Linked DNA regions of Homo sapiens: region 2 is linked to region 1. A link means that fine-mapping ties the variant in region 1 to the expression of a gene that starts in the linked region. Tissue or cell type: whole blood. Region 1 holds a variant in brackets; the other region holds the start of a gene. All regions are shown on one strand. Distances are between the middles of the regions.

Evidence for each region. PIP is the estimated chance that this variant, and not a neighbour inherited with it, causes the effect.
Region 2: RUBCNL starts here. The variant in region 1 is fine-mapped to the expression of RUBCNL in whole blood (TOPMed, PIP above 0.99).

What each region holds. Positions count from the first base shown.
Region 1 is chr13:46,355,497-46,363,681 of GRCh38, reverse strand. RUBCNL (rubicon like autophagy enhancer) reads left to right here. Exons shown (of 15, transcript NM_025113.5): 6 at 469-567; 7 at 1,084-1,144; 8 at 2,109-2,241; 9 at 4,051-4,196; 10 at 7,186-7,250. Among named protein-coding and RNA genes, the nearest start is that of RUBCNL, 28 kb to the left of the region's middle. The variant G/T (reference allele first, on the strand shown) is at 4,864.
Region 2 is chr13:46,383,829-46,392,013 of GRCh38, reverse strand. RUBCNL (rubicon like autophagy enhancer) reads left to right here and starts at 4,762. Exons shown (of 15, transcript NM_025113.5): 1 at 4,762-4,880. RefSeq lists enhancers at 1,543-1,762, 2,083-2,222, 3,986-4,095, 4,116-4,215, 4,246-4,525 and 1 more.

The DNA.
Region 1 (8,185 bases):
GGGGTTCTGCCATGTTGCCCAGGCTGGACTTGAACTCCTGGGCTCAAGTGATTCTCCTACCTCAGCCTCCTGAGTAGCTGGGACTACAAGTGCACGCCCCTGCCCCTGGCAGATTTACATTTTTAAATGATAGTATTTAATCGTGTGATTTGCAAAATCAATTTCCTATTATTAAACGTTTAGATGCTTTCAGTGTTTCAATATTTTAAAACATTGGATGGACTGCAGATAGCTTCTTTGTGATGAAAGCCTTCCGAATAGCTGGGACTACAGGCACTTAATCATAGTGAGTGCAAAAAGAACACACAAATAGTTCCCCAGTTTTTTAATTCTTTAAGTTGAAATGTTTAATTCTCTTAAACTTTTAGCCCTCTTCATTTCCCAATTTCTATTTAGTTGGGTGTTGCAGGTTGTACAGTTTTTCTTTTTCTTCTTATTGGTAAAAACCTCCTTCCTTTCTTTGTCTAGGTTGTGCTGTGTTACAGGTCAGCCCAGTGACTGAAACACGTACTTACCATGATGTGAAAGAGATTTGCAAATGCGATGTTGATGAATTTGTTATTTTAGGTAAGATTTGGAAACTGTTTGGATGTGACTGGCTGCCTCCCCAATCCCATCCGCATACACACACTAACATGCATCACACACAACATTACGTTACAGTGGCATTCAAACCAACTTCTTCCAAAATCAGATTATGGCCCTGATATATATATATATATATATATATATATATATATATCTATATATATATATATGATGTTCTTGTTTCAAATGTCTGGATAGCTAATCTCTCATCTCACTTGTAGAGTTGAATGAAAAAGCAGATATTCATTATGGTCGGATATCTCTTTGGCCTCTCAGTTATATTTTGGTGAAATTTCAGATGAAATCCCATCTTTGATCATTATCTGTCCTCTCATTATCTGTTCTGTCCATTTCTCAGAACCTGAAGCATGGAGATGCTGAATAATTTGCTCTTTCTGAGATGCAGGGAGTGATTTTAGTGTTCTTATAAAATGGACTGCGATTAAATGAAACAGACTAAAAGACCTCACCACTCTTTCTTTTATTTTCCCACAGAGCTTGGAGATTTTAATGATATCACAGAAACCTGTAGCTGTTCCTGCAGCTCCTCTAAGAGGTATCTGTCTTCTGTGCACAGTGCACATAGACCCTTGGGCTGTCACCTCTGAGGCAGTGTGAAACCTAGGCCTCTGACATTCTGGGCCCACTTTAGCTAGTTCCAGTGATTTGTTCCCATGAATCTAGGAGAGTATCACCTAGAAATGAAACAATCACCCCCAAAGTTTCTATAGTGTTTTACAATATATAAAAGGCTTTTGTATGCATTTTCATTTAATCCTCATTTCAGTTAAACAGGTTGGGTGAATTTTATGTATGCATGTGTGTGTATATTTATGTTTTTGTTGTTGTTGTTTTTGAGACCGAGTTTTGCTCTTGTCACCCAGGGTAGAGTGCAATGGCCCAATCTCGGCTCACTGCAACCTCCGCCTCCTGGGTTCAAGCAATTCTCCTGCCTCAGCCTCCTGAATAGCTGGGATTATAGGCACCTGCCACCACACCTGGTTAATTTTTTTTTTTTTTTTGTATTTTTAGTAGAGATGGGGTTTCACTATGTTGACCAGGCTGGTCTTGAACTCCTGACCTCAGGTGATCCGCCTGCCTCAGCCTCCCAAAATTCTGGGATTACAGGTGTGAGCCACCATGCCCGACCATATATTTATGTATTTTTAAACCTCATTTTATAGACATAAAAATTGAGACTCATATATAGGATGTGCTTCGGGACACGAAGGCTGTGAGGTAGAAGTAGGGCTTGAATGCAGGTCTTCTGACTCTAAAGCCAGTGCTCTTTCACCACACCTCTAAGTCTTAGCGCCCTCAGTAAATAAAAGATGCTTTATTTATTGAACATGCAGGAGCCATGTTGAGTAAGATGCCTGGTGAGTGATTCATGCGTCATCTCATATGACAGCCTCTTCTGAGTTTTGGGGGCTGGGAAGAACAGTTGAAAACCTCAGGAAGACCCTGAACATACTCCTCATGAATATAGTTTTCCAGTATTTGCATCTCTTACATTTCAGTGTCACTTATGAGCCAGACTTCAATTCTGCAGAACTATTAGCCAAAGAGCTGTACCGCGTGTTCCAGAAGTGCTGGATACTGTCAGTAGTTAATTCTCAGCTGGCAGGTTCCCTGAGTGCAGCTGGCTCGATAGTAAGTATCAAAAAAAATTGACCTTGAATTGAAAGTTCCTAAATCCTCATTTTGCCTGCCCTGTTCACTTTAAACATTTGTCTTTCCTTGTATGGTCACTGGATATTAGGGGAGACTCAAAATGAATGAGGAAACTGGCATGTGTTGAGTACTTATTGTGTACCAGAGACTGTGCTCAGCAGTCCACATTATTTTATTTTATTTATTAATTTTTTTGAGACGGATTCTTGCTCTGTCACCCAGGCTGGAGTGCAGTGGCGCAATCTCAGCTCACTGCAACCTCCGCTTCCTGGGTTCAAGCGATTCTCCTGCCTCAGCCTCCCAAGTAGCTGGGACTACAGGCGCACGCCACCACGCCCAGCTAACTTTTTTGTATTTTTAGTAGAGACAGGGTTTCACCATGCTGGCCAGCTGGTTTCCAACTCCTGACCTCAAGTGATCTGCCCACCTTGGCCTCTCAAAGTGCTAGGATTATAGGCCTGAGCCACCGTGCCCGGCCAGCAGTCCACATTTTAATCCTCATAAGTATCCTGTTAGGTAGAGGCTGTCCTTATTTTTATTTTTAAGTGGTGGGCCCAGCCTCCCAGCAGGGCTGGTCAGCTGTGAAGCAGGAGTCATGCCCAGGCTGCCTCATTGGAAAGTACATGTTGGTTCCCTCATGGAACACACTGCTCACTGCTGTCAGAGAGCAAGCAGCCTTCTGAGGGTAGAGAACATTATGACAAAGGCTAAAACAGGGGTAGGGAAAATGCCCTCGAAGTGCAGAGGAAGGAGTGTTTAATTTTACCAGGGGAACTTAGGAAGGCTGACTGCAGATTTCAGAACTTGAGCTAAGTATTGGGCTGGCCAGAACTGTGGCAGGTAGAAAGGTTGGGGGAGGACGTTCTTGGCAAAGGGGAGCTGCAGCAAAAGTGGAGGGGCATGCTATGCCGTTGAGCAGAGTGATTCGCTGCGGTTGGATAATACCCGTTTGTGAGTATTTGTGTCTGAGAGGTTGTTCTTTATGGAAATAAGGTTTGAATGATAGTAGCCAAATTGTGGAGGATGTAGAATGCTAATTTGAGAAGTTTGGATTTTATTTTATTTTATTTTATTTATTTTTTAAGATGGAGTCTCACTCTGTTGCCCAGGGTGGAGTGCAGTGGCACAAGCTCGACTCACTGCAACCTCCACCTCCTGGGTTCAAGCAATTTCTGGCTAACTTTTGTACTTTTAGTAGAGACAGGGTTTCACTATGTTGGCCAGGCTGGTCTCAAACTCCTGACCTCAAGTGATCCACCCACCTCGGCCTCCCAAAGTGCTAGGAAAACAAGCATGAGCCACTGCACCCAGCTGAGAAGTTTGGATTTTAAATGACAGTAGGAAAGTCCAGTGGTTCAGCGGGGAGGCACTGAACATTTGTAAGCAAGGGGAAAGGTCTTAATAGAGCTGTTTCTGGGGAAGACTAATAATGATAGGGGTTCTGATTGGTAGCATTTGTCAGTCTGTTGACTAAGAGGGGTGAGGCTTCTGCTATTCATAAATGCATTCCAGGTCAAAATGACCTACTTACAGTAAATTTGAAGTCTGGAAATAAATGAACTAAAAATACTAAGAAAAGTGATCTCATCTGGGTGGTGTTTAAAGCAATTCTCTTGCAGATGGCTTTAGAGATGTGGAGGGCTCTTGGTATGCCCTTTAGTTCAGTTAAAAGCACTGTTAATTTTTCATGGTAAATTTTAATGTTGGAAATACATTTAGATGTTTCTTTAATTTAAATTCTTTGAAATATGCTTAAGTTGTTCCTAAATCATTTTATGTCTTATGCAGGTCGTAAATGAAGAGTGTGTCCGAAAAGACTTTGAATCCAGTATGAATGTAGTACAGGAAATTAAATTTAAGTCTAGGATCAGAGGGACTGAAGACTGGGCTCCTCCTAGATTTCAAATCATATTTAATATTCATCCACCACTCAAGTAAGTATGGGCTGTTGCTTGGGCCTCCAATCCATTTAAATCACATTGTGACAGATCCCACCTGACTCTATGGCAGTAGGTGAAAAAAATACATATGCTAAAGAACACAGGAAAATTTGTTTTAGGGAAAGGAAAGTTGGCTGTATTTTCTGGCTTAGGTTTTTTTTTTTTTTCCTCTTGTTTACCATGGACTTTTGGGGGCTCTGTAAGTTTTGACAAGTTGAGAATTCAGCTATGCAACCCTAATTGTCAATATTGCGTAGCAACTGAAAATTAAATAGGCTTAAAGGGGATTTTTAAAAGTGGCTAATATCAAAACTTAAAAATTATATACAATAATTTTTTAAAATGTGTTTCCTTTTTAAAAAAATTAGAGATGGGGTTTCACCATGTTGCCCAGGCTGGTGTTGGACTCCTGGGCTCAAGTGATCTGCCCACCTCAGCCTCCCAAAGTGCTGGGATTACAGGTGTGAGCCACCTCGCTCAGCCTATGATAATTTTAAAAGACTGGACCACTTTATCTTCCAGAACAATCAGTGTGAAATAAAAATGAATGAATAAACTTCTAAAAAAGGAACATTTAATCTTAGGGAAAGCACTTATAGTTAAGAAATGTTACAGAGGCCGGGTACGGTGGCTCACACCTGTCTATAATCCCAGCACTTTG[G/T]GAGGCCTAGGCTGGGGTCAGGGATCACCTGATGTCAGGAGTTTGGGGTCAGCCTGGGCAACATGGTGAAACCCTCTCTCTACTAAAAATACAAAAATAAACTAGGTGTGGTGGGTGCAGCCCTCTAATCCCAGCTACTCGGGAGGCTGAGGAGCAAGAATTGCTTTAACCCAGGAGGCAGAGGTTGCAGTGAGCTGAGATTGCACCAGTGCACTCCAGCTTGGGTGACAGAGCGAGACTCGATCTCAAAACCAACAAAAGAAATGTAACAAAATGTAAATAAAAATATGTTTGTTCTCTAAGAAGTAACAAAAGTTCTAAAAGACAAAACAACTAAGATTATGCAAAAAAGGAAATAAACCTATAAATTTAAAGTAATAGTTTAATTGTAATTTGTTCCGAGACTATAGGACAGATTATGATCAAAGATTATACACAAAACATTTTAACCAAGTATAATTTTTCCATCCCTCTTGGTTTGTATTCAATTTGGTGTGCAAACTGCCAAGCATTACAAAGGGACCGGTGAGGGTTGTTGACTGTGCCCAAGGGACTGGAGAGAGGTTGACTCTGCCCCACGGAGGTGCCTTATAGACTAGATCTTTCTTTTGTTTTTCTTTTTTTGAGAGAATGCCAAGAAAGTCTGTGGGGCTGCTTGGGCAGAACTCCCTGTCTAGGCATCGTGAGAGGTTGCTTTCCTTAGCCTGGGGTATCTTTTCTTTAGGGGTTTCCTAGGTCCTCACTATGGCACCTGGGCAGAGATTTAGCATATTTTTACCTTGGCCATCTTTTGCTGATCCTGAACTGTAAACAAATTTTACAATTTCCTTGGTATTTCCAAGTCACATGTAAAACTATGGGATAAACAGTTCAATAGAAAATCCCTCAGGCCGGGCACAGTGGCCAATGCCTGTAATCTCAGCACTTTGGGAGGCCGAGGTGGGCGGGATCACCTGAGGTCAGGAGTTCAAGACCAGCCTGGCTAACATGGCAGAACCCTGTCTCTACTAAAAATACAAAAATTAGCCGGGCATGGTGGTGCATGCCTGTGGTCCTAGCTACTTGGGAGGCTGAGGCAGGAGAACTGCTTGAACCTGGGAGGTGAAGGTTGCAGTGAGCTGAGATTGCACCACTGCACTCCAGCCTGGGCAACAGAATAAGACTCCATCTCAAAAAAAAAAAAAAAAGAAAGAAAATTCCTCAATGGAATGGAATATCTCTTACCAGAAATGATTTGATTTCTTTGTCTTACGTTACCTCTTATTCGTCTAAATTTCTTTAGATCCATTTGTGAATTTCCCAAGTGCATCATCTTTTGGTGTATGGCCTCCCTGAGCTGTCTTCCTTGTATAACATGTCTCTGGTTCTCTCTGGAGCTGGAACCCTGTACACGGGCATCGAGACCTCCCTAAAAACCCCTTGGAGTTATCAGTGACGCTGACTTCTGCTTTGGTTTTAGCAGAAGCTTTTTTTTTTTTTTTTTTTTGAGACGGAGTCTCACTCTATCGCCCAGGCTGGAGTGCAGTGGCGCGATCTTGGCTCACTGCAAGCTCCGTCTCCCGGGTTCACGCCATTCTCCTGCCTCAGCCTCCGAAGTAGCTGGGACCACAGGTGTCCACCACCACGCCCGGCTAATTTTTTGTATTTTTAGTAGAGACAGGGTTTGGCCAGGATGGTCTCCATCTCCTGACCTCGTGATCCGCCTGCCTCAGCCTCCCAAAGTGCTGGGATTACAGGCGTGAGCCACCGTGCCCAGCCTAGCAGAAGCTTTTAAAGAGATGTAGCTTTAAGGCTGGGCACGGCGGCTCATGCCTGTAATTCCAGCACTTTGGGAGGCCGAAGTAGGGGGATGACTTGAGGCCAGGAGTTCGAAACCAGTGTGGGCAACATAGAGAGACCCTATCTCTACCAAAAAAAAAAAAAAAAGTAAATAAAGCCAAAAAAAGCTAGCTGGGCATGGTGGCGTGTACATGTAGTCCTAGCTACCTACACAGGAGGCTGAGGATTGCTTGAGCTGAGCCGAGGAGTTTGAGGCAGTAGTGAACTATGATCATGCCAGTGCCCTCCAGCCTGCGTGACAGAGCAAGACCCTGTCTCAGGAAAAAAAATGAAAAATAAAAAAAATTAGTCATAGCTTTAAAAGACCCAGGGATTTCAACTAGAAAATTGTATTGAATAAATCTATTTCTTTCCCAAATGAAAAGTGACAAAGTTAAGGCCCTTAGTTAGAAAAGTATCACGATGGCAATTTCTTTTCTAATTAGTGAAAAATGTGCCATTGGCCTTCTCTGAAATGTAACTAGTATTATTTTTCGTATTCAGGAGGGACCTTGTGGTGGCAGCCCAGAATTTTTTCTGTGCCGGCTGTGGAACTCCAGTAGAGCCTAGTAAGTACGGATAATGGATCGCCTGCTTATGATGTGATGACAAGGTCCAGAATAGCAAAGTAGGGCAGCGCATTGCTTGTGTGAGAGATGCCTTTGATGAGAAGTTGTTATAAGAGCTTCAGAGAAGTTGCCCTCCTTTTCATGAGGAGTCCATCATGACTGACAAGGCTGTGTGATCAACTAGGACCGAGGACACCAGGACCAGCCTCCTAGTTCTCTCCCTGTTGGGCATCAGCTCCAGCCACGTGGCCTCCTGCTGCCCCTTGAAAATGCCAGGCTCACTTCTGACATATTTGCGTTTGTGGTTTTCTCTCCCCCAAATGCTCTCTCTGCAGACACCCCCATGACTAATTCCTTTGCTTCTTTCACATTTTCACTCCAAAGTCACGAGGTCTTCCCTTGCTGCCCTATCTAAAATACCTGTCTTGCCCCACTGCTGGCCACAGACAATCCCATGAACGCTTTATATTACCCATCCTTATTTTTTTTCTTTATTTTCTTGCACAATATTTTCTTAGAAGTTCCTTCTTATTTTGTATTCTTAGCACAGTCTTTCTAAAATAGTCTCTTATATTTTACTAATATGTCTTATTATTATCTGTCTTCAACACTAGATTATAAGTTCTGTGAGGCCACATGTGTTGTCTGTTGTATTTATTACTTTATTTCCAGCTTCTAGAAGAGTGCCTGGCACATAGTAGGTCTTCAAAAGATATTTGTTGAGTAAAGGAATGGCTTAACAAGGAGCTAGCCAAACTTCTCTGAGAGTTTGAGGAGGTAGCCTGAGAGGATCATTCCTGGGCCAACTGAGGCCTAGAAGATTAGGCTTTCCTGGGCCAGGCACGGTGTCTCCCACCTGTAATCCCAGCACTTTGGGAGGCTAAGGTGGGTGGATCACCTGAGGTCAGGAGTTTGAGACCAGCCTGGCCAACATT
Region 2 (8,185 bases), 28 kb before region 1:
CACCACAAACCCCCAGCTACTTAACACCAGCTGGATCAGAGAGTAAAATGGCAGAACTACTCTTCCTTCTGAATAAGGAGCTGCAACAACCCAAAAGCTGGGCCCTGGGCACCCCTAAATGGAAAGAAAAATAAATTAAGATTTATTTATTTATTTGATTATTTTGAGACAGAGTCTTGCTCTGTTGCTCAGGCTGGAGTGTAGTGGCACTATCCTGGCTCACTGCAACCTCTGCCTCCCGGGTTCAAGCGATTCTCCTGCCTCAGCCTACCAAGTAGCTGGGATTACAGGCATCTGCCACCATGCCCAGCTAATTTTTGTATTTTAGTAGAGGTGGAGTTTCACCATGTTGGCCAGGCTGGTCTGGAACTCCTGACCTCAAGAGATCCACCCACCTCCACCTCCCAAAGTGCTTGGATTACAGGTGTGAGCCACCATGCCTGGCAAAGATTTATTAACATTCATAGAGCCAGGCGTAGTGGTTCATGCCTGTAATCCCAGCACTCTGGGAGGCCAAGGTGGGAGGATTGTTTGAGCCCAGGAGTTCAAGACCAGCCTGAGAAACATAGGGAAACCCTCATCTCTACAAATAACTTAAAAAATTTAGCTGGGTGTGGTGCTGTTTGCCTGTAGTCCCAATTATTAGGGAGGCTGAGGTGGGAGGATCACCTGAGCCTGGGAGGTTGAGGCTGCAGTGAGTCATGATCATGCCACTGCACTCAGGCTGGGCAACAGAGCAAGAACCTGTCTCAAAAAAAAAAAATTAAAAGCAAAAAGGCTGGGTGTGGTGGCTCACACCTGTAATCCCAGCACTTTGGGAGACCAAGGCAGGCAGATCACCTGTGGTCAGGAGTTCGAGACCAGCCTGGCCAACATGGTGAAACCCCATCTCTACTACAAATACAAAAATTAGCTGGGTGTGGTGGTGCATGCCTGTAATCCTAGCTAGTTGGGAGGCTGAGGCACAGGAATTGCTTGAACCTGGGAGGTAGAGGTTGCACTGAGCCGAGATCATGCCACTGCACTCCAGCCTGGGTGACAGAGTGAGACTCCATCTCAAAAATAAATAAATAAAAATTAAAAAGAGAAATGAACAAAAATTCAAGTGAAGAATTTCCAGATGTAGGGGCCCTGTCAGCTGATTGCTTTCACCTGGGCTTTTACTCCAAAGAAGTATTACATCATGATAATACATTTATATTTTTTACATATATATGTATATATAAAATATATAAATAATATATACATATATACATACACCATACACATAAATATTTGTGGTAAAATATAACAAAATGTATTATCATAACCATTTTTCAGTGTACAATTCAGTGGCATTAAGTACATTTACAGCATTGTGCAACTATCACTACAATCTCTCTCCAGAACTTTTTCATCAACCAGACAGAAAATCTGTGTCCATCAAGCAATAACTCTGTATTCCCCATCCTGCCAGGCCCTGCCAACTTCTGTTCTACTTTCTGTCTCTATGAATTTGTCTCTTCTAGGCTCCTCATGCAAGTGGGTTCACACAGATGTGTCCTTTTGCAGACAGTGGCTGTTAAGTCAGGCAAGGAGGAAGAGAAACAGCCAAGCCAAATGCAGCTTTCCTCGGTTCTTTCCTTCCCTGGTGCTTGTCTGGGCTTCTCTCCCATGCAAAATCATCAGTCTTTCTTCCTGGGACTTCTATGTGGTGAAGATGCCATTAGGCACCCTCTGGTAGCTTATAATGCAGTTCATTTCATCTCATTTCCTTCCTGTTTTGTACAGAGACTGGTTTCCCCTTTGCTGACTGTCAGCTGAGTTCAAAACTGGGGTCAAAGCTCTGCTCACAGCACAAATCACTTCTTGTGAAGCCTGGCTGGGTTTTGGCAGGCAGCTGCTAGGCTTTCGGTCTTTTATGAGGCTATCCTGGCCACAATGGAGCTTTGTGTGTGATCAATGGGTGCTGGGCATGAGCCCGGCTGGGCTAGCTGACACAGTGAGTTGTCCCTGACACTCATGACTTTCAAGCCCTGTGTCTTGGAGGGCACTGTGATCTGGAAGTTCACCTTCCCCATGAAAAAACCCAAACCAGCCTCTCCTTTTCCTGCATGGTGATCCGTCTGTAATGATCAGTGACATTCTCAGAATTAACCAATCAGGAAATTCTTGGAAAGTCCACGCCTCAGCATTTAGTGCTTGGGAAATTCTACTTCCAGATCCCAGAGGGGACAGAGCAGATTTCCAGTGAGCATTCCTAACTTGAAAAACCTGTCCTTGAATGTTTCTCCTTAGTCCTAGAGATGCTCTTTCAGAATGTGAACCTCCTGCGTCTGTGACGAGATGTAGAAGGTCTATACTCAGAGTTAGTAGGATGTCCACGTGATAGTGCCTAGGCCTGCCTTATGGCAGTTTTGAGAAAGGTGATTTCAGAGTGGCTTCAGAGGGGATGACTAAAGCCCACAATCTTGGTCCAAAATATCCTAATCTCCCTACAAAAACGATTTTCTTGCCTTGGACTATGTCCAGTCTGCCAACTAGTACAGCTGTTTCTGGTTTTTGACTCACTGATTTACCTGGCATGACATTTCCTCTTGTTTCAAGATTCTTTCTCTAAGTTCCTCCTGACTCCTCTTTCCCTTTAAGTATTCCTGAAACTGGCTCTTGCCTGGTCCCTTTATTTCATTATTCTTCCATCTTGCTGGTAGTATGGTGGAAATTGGACATAGGGTTTGGTGTCAGATACACCTGCCTTCAAAGCCTAACTGTGCTACCTATTAGCTCTGTGACCTTGGGCAAGTTATTTGAACCTAAGTCATAGATTTCCCCCTTGCGAAATGGGAACAAATGATTTGTTATTCTCAGGGATGTTCACAGACTTGCTTAAAATAATAAGAAAAAGTACCTGGCACATAGCCGATACTCAAAAAATGTTAGCACACACCCACACCTTTTTCTTTCTGATTCATTTAAGGTAAGCCCTTCCCAATCGGCCTTCAGCTGACCTGAATTCCTGGGATACTGTATTTGGAATTTTAAATATTCCAAATATCCAGAGTTCTTGCAGGTCAAAGCTGGTCTATGCTCCAAACAGGCTGCCCCCAAGGGAAGCAGGGTAATTGGCAGCTAGTATTCATCTGACTTTTGTCATATTGATTCAATATTTTATCTGAAGATGGCAGCAACTAGTACATGGTGCCACCGTTTAGCCACTCCATGCCAGAGGTACCAGGCAAGTAAAAGCCAAATTACCAGTGCCTCTGCTCCATCCTGGAAATGACAAAGGACAAAGCCAAGGAACCCAGGAAAGTGCAACGGGATTTGGTTTTATGCAGCAGGGAATCTTCTAAGAAAGCCAGGACCGGTTCACCTACGTGTCATTACCAGTGCAGGCAGCTCAGAGGTCCTTCCCCGGGAGAAGTCAGGGCACCGCGAGAGAGAGCTTAGCTTCCTTCCTTCCTCCATCCCTCCCTCCCTTCCTTCTGGGACTTAGGTTCCTTCCTTCCTTCCTTCCTTTCTACTTTTCTTTCCTTCCTTCCTTCCTTGGCTTTGGTTCCTTCCTTCCTTCTACCTTCCTTCCTTCCTTCTTTCCTTCCTTCCTGGGCTTAGGTTCCTTCCTTCCTTGGCTTAGATTCCTTCCTTCCTTCGCCCTTCCTTCCTTCCTTTCTTTGCTTTCCTTCCTTCCTTCCTTCCTTGGCTTAGGTTCCTTCCTTCCTTCCTTCCTTCTTCCCTCCCTCCCTCCCTTGGGTTCCTTCCTGCCTGCCTGCCTGCCTTCCTCCCTCCCTCCCTCCTTCCCTTCTTCTCCTTTCTGTTTTTTTTTTTTTTTTTTTTTGACAGTCTTGCTCTGTCGCCCAGGCTGGAGTGCAATGGCGCGATCTCGGCTTACTGCAACCTCCGCCTCCCGGGTTGCTCCTGCTTCAGCCTCCCTAGTAGCCGGCATAACAGGCACCCGCCACCACGCTCGGCTAATTTTTATATTTTTAGTAGAGACAGGCTTTCACCATGTTGGCCAGGCTGGTCTCGAACTCCTAACCTCAAGTGATCCATCCGACTTGGCCTCCCAAAGTAGGTGCTGGGATCACAGGCTTGAACCACCGCACCCGGCCAGAGCTTAGGTTTCTATTCGTGACAACTTTCTGTATTGGTTGGCAGGTTCTCCTAGCACCACCATGATCTCAGGACTAACCACTGCACACCCGTGATGGGATTCCAAACCTTCGCTGCAAGAGGACAAGGTGACGAGTTGCTGACAGTGAAGGCTAAACTAACGCGGACAGTGAAGTGCTACATGAGTCGGACTCAGACTCCAGGTGAAGCAGCCAGCAGAGGTCAGAGAGAGACAGCTCACGTTCCGGGTAAGTTGCAGGTCGATTTCAGGGCCGACTCATCCAGATTACTCATTCTTCATTTCAGGCAATTGTATGACTGCTAAATACTGCTGCTGGGGGCATCTGGGGTTGGGAAGTCATTTCTGCCAGGTCTTTGACCCCTGAAAGCGTCGTTGCGTCTCGCGCCGCGGGTAGGCAGGGCGGGATTTCTAGGAGGACCGGCAGAGGCGCGCATAGGTGCGTGGTGCTGGGCCCGGGCGCCGCGGCACCGGTGTAGGAGCGCGCATCTCCAGAGTTTCTTCCATCTGGGCGACGTCTCGGTGCCTGCGGCGGGAACGGCGCTTTGCTTCCCTGAGGAGCTTCTAGAGAGCTACGGTGGCCCCCGTGTGGGAGGCGGGGGGCGTGGCGGCGTCGGGGCGTCGCTGTCCCCTCCTCGGTAGCTCTCCTCCCTCCCCTTTCTGCTGTTACCGGGAGCGCGGTGGCCACGGAACGCTGCCCGGAGCCGCGCGAGGGAGGACCCGACGCGCGGCGTTTACCCAGCGCAGCGTTCCACCGCTCGGGTTTGGCTGGGTGAGGCTGGCGGGGCCGGGGGCGAGATGGGAGCGGCGCGGGGTGGAGAGGGTGGTTGGAGAAAGGGAAGGGAGGGCCGCGGGAGAGGTTGGATGGTGGAAGTGGCGCCAGAGAGGTTTGTGCCCAGCAGAGACACCCAGGTATCTTAGGGTCGCTCAGAGCAGTGTCGGGGACCCCTTGGAGACAGTAGGAAGGGGCTCCTCGCGGGGTGGCGGATTTCTATCCGGTTGACTTTGTAGAGTGAGGTTGACCCTGTGTTCGGCTTGGGCCGGGAAGGGCGCAGAAGCGGGACCTCAGGACACTTTTACGCAGGGCGATTCTCAGAGACTACAAAGCCTGCGCCCTGCGTCCTCCCAGGCGCAGTGTTCTGGGATCAGTGTCTTTTCTCTGTTTTCGTCCTCAACACAGCCAAAGTCGTGGATATGTGGTGACAGAAAAACATTTGGCTACATAACTGAGCTAGGCTGGAGTGTGAAATCGCGGCGTGTTATTTGGTCCGGGCGCCCTACATAGCAACCCCCACTCTTCTCGCCCCCAACCCCCCGCCACGCCGGACACGGTCAGGCGGGCGTTCCCCCAACCCGCCCCTTGTGAAGTCCACCTGCTGAGACTGATACAGATCCCCTGCGAACTTGATGCTGTCCGCTTGGAAAACGTGGAGAACTTTCAGAGGAGGGGTTATTTCGCCTTGAGTGAAAATTAAGACTCAAAGGAAAAGGTATACTCAAGAGCTGCCCTTACTGGGTTATTTCTGTGGAATTTGGAAGGATCTTTGAATTGAAGATGTGGTGGGAGCGCGCAGAGAACAGAGAATCCGTAAGCTTGAGTTTCTTAGACCCAGTTTCTTAAAGCCAAAGTAGCGGGGAGATCTTGGCAAGTCAAGAAACCTTCTTGAACTTCAGTTCCCTTGCCTCAGGGGGAGAATACTCCAGCCATACCCCACTGTGTGGTTTAGAAGGTTAATGGCCTGGAGGGAGGGAAGTGTTTTGAAGCCTATAAAGTATCCTGTGAAGGTATCACCACATTGCTGCCCACTGAAACACTGCCGGCCGCCGACAGAACTTTGTTTGGAGCCGAGTTAAGACAGCATCTTTATGGCAGTGCTGGGGTTTTCGTGATTACCGGTCCAGAGTGTCAGGACACCTCTGTTTCTCAAACCCCAGTTTCTGCACTGCCACATGAAACTGCTCATTACTGAGTGACAGCAGAGGACAGGAACTTTGCCTTCTTCATTAACTTCTTTAGGGCCTTTACAAAGTGGGAGATGGTAGGAACTTTGATGAAAATTGAGGGTCATAGCCTTGGAGCGGGGTGAGGGGTTAGATTTGACTGGACATAGTCTTCATGCAACCGTTTAACAACAAAAACATTGTTGGCTGAGTTCTTGTTTTTTGATACAAGGAACATTCTGTCGGAGCCAAGGTTAAACATCCAAGAGTAAACGTTTGTTGGTTTTTTTTTTTTTTTGCATGATCTTTAGAGGATAAGTAAAAAACTAAAGAAAGGCTGCATTGCTTGCTGACACATTTTTTCCCCACCCATCTGAAGGCACACAAATAATAGCACTGGCAAATTTGAATAGTTTCCCTTGTTACCAAATCTACGTTCTTATTTCTAATATGGAACGATTATTTCTAGTATGGAGAGAAATATGGAATTTCTAATATGGAAGATTTAGCATGGTGTGTCATTGTAAAAATTTAGGCAGTTCTTGGATAAGTATGTCCAGCCTTCCAGAGACTATAAGTGTAGTAATATTAGTGCCTGTTAGTCATATTGTGTATCTTCCTGATACCCAATTAGATCTCTGATTGTTTTTTCTTTTTAATTAAAAGGAGCTGAAAGATGACTCAGTTAAGAAGCTGGAAAATAAAACCAGGTCTCTGTAACTGTGCTGTCTTATTCTGAACTGAAAGTCTTTCTGCAATAATAATGATGGTGATAATAAAGCTAACCTTCATAGGACATTGTGTACCAGACTGATACACGTGCTACAATTCTGTTCGTTCTCACACCATCCTTCATGGGGGAGGTTAAGAGCATTGCTCAAAATCACACAGCTAATAAGTCATTTTTCTCAGATTGGCGTTAAAATTATATTTAATTGGGTCCTGTGTGTGCGAGTGTTTTAACTTTTGCATTGTCTTTTATCCCACACACGGAGGCAACATGGATGGTGAGACTAGGGGCTATGGACAAGGTTCCAGGGTTTGGACTTGAGCATGCTGCTGAGTGGCTATGTGGTCATCACTTTACTTCCTTTTCTAACCCGTAAAATGATGATAATAATTCTACATTGAATGAATCCTTTGTTTCTACTGAGCCCAAAGTCTGCTCCGTAAAGGTAAAATACTTCTCAGAGTGTAGAAAGAAAAGTTTCAGATTCAAGCCTTTTTGTCATCAGTAGGCTGGAAAATGAATAGAAGTTAGAATAAACTATACACTTAATGTGATTTTTCCAACAATTATGTTGAAAAATTGTTCAAAAATGCATTCATTCCAATGATCCTTAGCTTTATATTTATTAAAAGAAGTAAATGTAAATTAGACCTCAACGTTTTTTTTTAACAGGTAACGTTGAAAAGCACCCACAGTAAGCAGGTACTGTTTGCTGGTTGATTTTAGATGATGAAAATTGTAGAGTAAGTACGTTTGCAGAAAACTGTAGAGTAAGTACAATTATAGAGTAAGTATAAGAAGAATTGTATTCAAAGGTATTGTATTATTCTTATAAAGAAATGTATTCTTCTTATACTTTTTTACGTTCTTTTATTCCGACAAGCTAGAGTTGATCAGAAAAGAACTGAATTCCAAAAATATGTTTAGGGCACTTCCCTATTCTCTCTGTATTTACTTGGAAATGATTCTTAGAAGTTTTTGGCATGGGACTTTTAAGTTTGTTAAGTGAAGGGACTAGCACTTATCTATATGCATATTTTGCAAGTATTTTTAAAAATATGGCTCAATTGTTAAATCATTTTATTCGTCCCATGACTTATATAAAAATCTGGGGGTTTTTTGGTTGCTCACTTTTAGTTTAGGCTTGGTTTTATGGTGATCTGGGCTCAGGGAGGTAGACATGTCAATGTCATTAGCATTGCCAAGGTATAGGCAGTCTGCTGCATGCTGTGTGAATATTAATATTCTGAAGAGATATTTGAGTCCACAAGATTTAAAGATCTTCTGTTCACCGCTGTGCTTGTAGAATTAGGGCTAAATTAGTTTAGCCTGGGCCTCCTGGGTCTTGGTCATTTGAAAATAGCTCCTCAAGTAGGCTGGCTATGTGTCTTAGTATAGCAGAAACA